Regions from separate parts of the Homo sapiens genome. Here region 1 is linked to region 2. The links come from fine-mapping of genetic effects on gene expression. A gene starts in region 2. The other region holds a variant in brackets. All regions are shown on one strand. Distances are from middle to middle.

Region 1 (2,903 bases), 200 kb after region 2:
ATGCAGAGAGTGGCTGTACTGTAGTGGTTGGAGGAATTACTAAAAGCAACCACACATCACTTAACAACGGGGATACATTCTGGAAAATGTGGCCTTCAGTGATTTCACTGTTGTGCAAATATTATAGAGTGCACTTACACAAAGCTAGGTGGTAGAGCCTACTACACACCTGGGATGTATGGTATGACCTATTGCTCCTAGGCTACAAACCTGTAGAGCATGTTACTGCACTAAATACTATGGGCAATTGTAACTCGTGGTATTTGTGTATCTAAGCATAGCATACAGTATTAAATCTTGTGGGACCACCATTGTAAATGTAGTCTGTCGTTGATGGAAACATCACTATTTGGCACACGACTGTAATGCTACAAATAGTCTCCAAGCAAAAGAGAGCCTTAAAGACCCTCTAGCCTAGACCCCTGAATTTACAGGTTTGAAAAAAAAAAAGGTGGCAGTCAGGTAAAGTATTTTCTCCAGGTCTCTCTGTTCTTTAGAGCTGGAAACAACAAGATTTCCCAGCACACCAACTGGGCTACACACGGATCTCATCAGCTTCTGCCTCAGACCCCCAGGAGCTACATTTGTGAACCAATACGTTGCACTTAGGGCCACTGATCAAGCAGAGCTGACATCTTTGACTCACCAAAGGCTTGGGCCATGAGAGGAGCAGGTAAAATTGAAAGTCATCATCGAACAATCCCGGCTTCCACTAGGCCCCTGATTTCTTTGAACTTTTTTTCAAAAGGCCGTCTTTTATTAAATGGCTTGCTCAGACTTAGAGCATTGCAGTGGGGCAAGAATAGGAATTGGGTTTGGAAAGACAGAAGTTCTAATCCTGGACATTGTACATTCCGGGGCTTGACCTTGGGCAAGTTACTGTGTCACAGGATCCTTAGGGTGTTGCTTTTCCAGGTGGAAACCTATGTGGCTGGTGGTACCTTTCCTGAGTTTGCCTGGGCCCACTGCATTCATTCTGCCCACTTGTCCCTGCAGGCTGCACTTGGCTTGTGCTACCAGCCTGGATCCCATACCTGCCAAGGGTGAGCCAGGCATGAAGTGGCAACAGGTATGTGAGCAAGCATGAGGTCCAGCCACTGCATACAGCCAGGCATGCCAGCTACAGCGGGGCAGGCAGCTCCAGGCACCAACACAGGCACCAGCTCCTTGCAAGGCTGTGACTGGACCAGGTGTACTGCAGGTGGCTTCCACTGCAGGCATGAGGGAATGTAGTGGTTCCCAGAAGCTTGGAG[G/A]TGCCAGGAACCACAGAGCCCCAAAGAGGGTGTCAGCCCTGGGTCAGGGAACCCCTAGGGCTGGGCTCCCCAAAAAGCTGCAGTACTTCTCCTCATTGCCTGCAACCTGGCGAGCAGGGGATGTGTTTCAGCCCTGTTTGTGCTACAGTTCTTTCAGTCCTGCCATTCAGCAGGTCCCAAGATCTGGTCTAGAGTCCAGGAAGAATGAGGAATATGGATAACTGGAGGGTGAGCAAGGCGTAGAGGAGCTTCATTGAGCAACAGAACAGCTCTCAGGAGACCTGGAGTGGGTAGCTCCTTTCTGCAGGCAGGTTGTCCGAATGAGTGGAGGAGACCTGGAGTGGGTAGCTCCTTTCTGCAGGCAGCTTGTCCGAATGAGTGGAGGAGACCTGGAGTGGGTAGCTCCTTTCCACAGCTGCTAGTCCTGATGTGTCTGTGAGTCTGGCTGAGTCCAGGATTTTTTTTTTTTTTTTTTTTTTTTTTTTTTGAGACGGAGTCTCGCTCTGTCGCCCAGGCCGGACTGCGGACTGCAGTGGCGCAATCTCGGCTCACTGCAAGCTCCGCTTCCCGGGTTCACGCCATTCTCCTGCCTCAGCCTCCCGAGTAGCTGGGACTACAGGCGCCCGCCACCGCGCCCGGCTAATTTTTTGTATTTTTAGTAGAGACGGGGTTTCACCTTGTTAGCCAGGATGGTCTCGATCTCCTGACCTCATGATCCACCCGCCTCGGCCTCCCAAAGTGCTGGGATTACAGGCGTGAGCCACCGCGCCCGGCCGAGTCCAGGATTTTTAAGGGCTTCAGAAGGGAAGAAGTGCATGCCGATTGGCCCATGGGCAGCCACGGGCAGGCCAGAAAAAGCACCATAAGTTCTCACTCTGGGCCGCAGACTTCACCCAGAACTGACAGCTGGGCCCCCATACTTCAGGCCATCCCTGGCTTGAAAGTGGTGCTTCACCGGGACCTGCCCCTTTCTGCTGAGAAGCCTGTCTGCCTCCTGCCACCATCAATCATGTTGTCCATGGTGCCCAGGCTGTTCCTGCGGAGGAGCTCCTGCAGGCCCCACCAAGCCACCCTCAGCCCCTGTGGCCTCCCTCCCGTGCTCGATTGCACCCAAAGTCCAAATGGAGCCAAAGTAGCATAGGGCTGGTGTGTCAGCACCGCCCCAAGCGCACGCAAACCTGGCCGAGTGGCGATAGTGCCCAGGCTCAGCCTCAACTTTACTCGGAAATAGGAGTGGGCGCCAGGAGCAGGGAGAAGCCAGGAAGCGGGAGCAGGCACTTCTGAGCCTGCGAAGACAGGGAGGCTTCCCCGGCTCAAGAGCACAGGGATGCCTGGGTCTGCAGCCTCGGCTCTCTGTTGCAGTTGTGCCTGTGAGGGCTGGGTTCCCACCCCACCAACTCAGAAGGGGCCAGGGCTCCCGCCTGTTCCCAGCTCCTGCTGGCTGCATGGAACTGCAGCCCTGGCCACGCCTCCCTCCACTGCAAGCCGCATCTTCAAAGCGGCCGCTCCAGACAGGCTGCCACTGCCATCAACTGGGACACCCCGAATGCTTACCCGAAGCAGAGAGATTATAATAACACAGCTCTACTGGGACAAGTAAAAGCAGACATCGTTTCCTCTACATAATCCAAAATTAGAACATTTAAAGTG
Region 2 (2,903 bases):
CAAAAAACGAATGAGAACAAGTTCTGTGTTTCAAATGAGTGGGATGGATAATACATAGATAAACACGTAAGGTCACGTTGTGTTATATAAAAAAAAAAGTAGGCAGAGTAAGATCATGTAGGGAGCTATTCTAGACGAAATGGTCAGAGAATAGCAACTATTTCTGAACTTTACACAGAGCCTAATTTGTGACTTTTCCACTTTCTCTGAGAGGTAATAAGGAAATTTTGAACTTATAAAACTTTACTAAATCTCCACATTAATAATCTAAACTCAACGAGGGTAGTAGAGCAACCTTTACTTTGAGGTTTTTTTTTTAGGAAAATTGCTAAATTTCATTGTGAGATTAATCAATACATAACAGCTCACAAACGTGGCATGTCGATAAGGGGACAACTTAAAAGTTAAGAAAATGATGACCAGCTAATGACAGCTATGCAAGATGGTAAAAAACAGAACAGAGAAAAAATGGAAGGTTGAAAAGGAAAATGTAGCAGGACAAGCCGGAGGAAACTTGGGCGTGAGGAACAAGTCATCAAGGCAATTGGAAATTTCTGTGGATATGACAATGATGTCAGGAAACTTTCGGGTGGGGCAGAAACTTGAGTGACAGATGTTGTTCAAAAACAATGTGATTCATGATCTTATTTACAGCAGGAAGAATCAGAGTTCCAGCTATTCCTAACAGCGACACTGCGGAGCTTAGGAGGAGAACTCCTTAGGGGATGTATCAGGTTTAAAACCACAACCCTCATTTTTCTTATCTATGGCTCTTACATGGGCTGGGAATTCTGAAACCTGGGAGAGGCGGTGATCAAAAACCTGGAGGTTAGAAGATTCCAAGTCATTCATTAAAGTCCCGATGCGGCCGGCCCCCAAGATCTCAAAAGGAAATATTGCCGAGTTCCGTTTCCCAGAGCATCTATTTCCCCTCGAGTATTGCAGATGTAATCATAAACACAAGCCAGTTACAGCCACAACTTCATGCTTTAGCGAGAACCCAGTGGCTCCTGCAAAGTCCTTACGCTGCTAGAAACCCCGCCCCCGTTCGTAACTATGGGAACGGCTGACACGCTGAGAGCCGGAGATAACCCTGTTCCGCCCCCTCCCTGACAGATACTGTTTCCCACTGTCTGTCCACATGGGCGCACCGCCTCACTATTGGCCAGGGCTCCAGGACTGTGCCTGGCCTCAGCCAGTAAACGGCCTGTGCACGTGCACGCCGGAGCCTCCCGATTGGCCAACACTCCCTGATCACGCACGGCCTTCCTGCGCCCACCCACGCGTGGGAGCGCCAATGAAATGACTCAGTGACCATCTACAACAAATCAGCAAGAAGCAGGGCTCGCAGCTGACCAATGGCCGCCCGCCGGGGGTGGGCTGTCCCGGCCCTTTTCCAGGCCCAACTGGGTTTGTTAAAGCGACAGGCCTCTCGGCGAGCCGGTGCCCCATCGGGTACCGCACGGCTGCCGCGGCGGCCTTACCCTGCCGCGAGCGCCTGTGACAGCGGCGCCGCTGTGCTCGCGACCCCGGCTCCGGGCCTCTGCCGACCTCAGGGGCAGGAAAGAGTCGCCCGGCGGGATGGGCGGGGAGGCTGGGTGCGCGGCGGCCGTGGGTGCCGAGGGCCGCGTGAAGAGCCTGGGTCTGGTGTTCGAGGACGAGCGCAAGGGCTGCTATTCCAGCGGCGAGACAGTGGCCGGGCACGTGCTGCTGGAGGCGTCCGAGCCGGTGGCCCTGCGCGCGCTGCGCCTGGAGGCCCAGGGGCGCGCCACCGCCGCCTGGGGCCCGAGCACCTGCCCCCGCGCCTCGGCCAGCACCGCGGCCCTGGCTGTCTTCTCGGAGGTGGAGTACCTGAACGTGCGCCTCAGCCTGCGGGAGCCCCCGGCCGGTAAGCGCAGGCGAGCGCCTGGGGTTCCCCCGCCAGGCTGCGGGGCCGGGGAGGGGCTGGGAGGCCGCGCACCCTCGGGATGCCCACCTGGCAGGTGAGATCAGGGCGGGCTTCCGGGGGTGGGGTCCGGCCTACCCTCGCGGGTAAGGAGAGACCGCAAGTCCTGGGTGCGCAGCTCTTCCTGGCGCCCCGCCCCTGGCCCGCCGGGCCTGACCGGGACCAGTGGCTCGGGATTTTCTAGGACCGCGACGGGAGGGGGCCATTGGGTGCGGTGGGAACCTGTGATTGGACAATGGGGGATCCAGAAATCTAGGTCCTGTTCCTTCTGGTCCAAGAAAGGGACGGTGGAACCGGCGGCTATGAGGTTCCATTCTGCGGTGCCCGTGTCCTATGGCCTCCACTCCTCCCTATCCTGCATACGTTCTTGGTTCATGATGAATTAGCAGAAATTTGGTTTGGGGAATAGGGAAGTAGTTTCTGAGGGGTAGGAGTTCAAAGGAAGTGTTTTCCAGACTTGATCATCATGCTTGGTTTCCCTCTTCTGGGGAGCAGGGCAACTTAGTAAGAGTTGTACCTCTACCTGATACTGCTGCTGTTTCCTCCGCATCCTCTTCCTCCCCATCCTCCTCCTCCCCTCCTACCCGCTTCTTCCCCTCTCCCCCACTTCTCTCCACTCAAAATGCCTTTAGAGACAAGAGCATCAGGGCGTGTCGGGATTTCCCTTCCTGCTCACTTTGGTGAAGTCCAGTTCACAGTGTAGACTTTTCCAGAAGTACCCATGTGGGGACACACTACATGAGCGTTTCATTAATATTAGATACCAAAATTGGATCCCTTTAGTCACGAAAATACTAAGAACCATGAGTCTTACTCATTTCATGGATGGAAACTAGTTTAAACTTTTACGTTTTTGCCATGAGCTTTTATCTATCAAATAAAACAATGGTATGCACCTCCTCTCCTTGAAGAGTAAACGCATTATATCTATGTGCTATGTCTTATACAAAATATAATA

What was found. PIP is the estimated chance that this variant, and not a neighbour inherited with it, causes the effect.
Region 1: its variant is the best candidate, but not a certain one, in a credible set for the expression of ARRDC4 in whole blood (INTERVAL, PIP 0.60).

Annotation. Positions count from the first base shown.
Region 1 is chr15:98,161,161-98,164,063 of GRCh38, forward strand. No RefSeq gene overlaps it. Among named protein-coding and RNA genes, the nearest start is that of LINC01582, 74 kb to the left of the region's middle. The variant G/A (reference allele first, on the strand shown) is at 1,254.
Region 2 is chr15:97,959,281-97,962,183 of GRCh38, forward strand. ARRDC4 (arrestin domain containing 4) reads left to right here and starts at 1,423. Exons shown (of 8, transcript NM_183376.3): 1 at 1,423-1,888. The coding sequence starts at 1,582.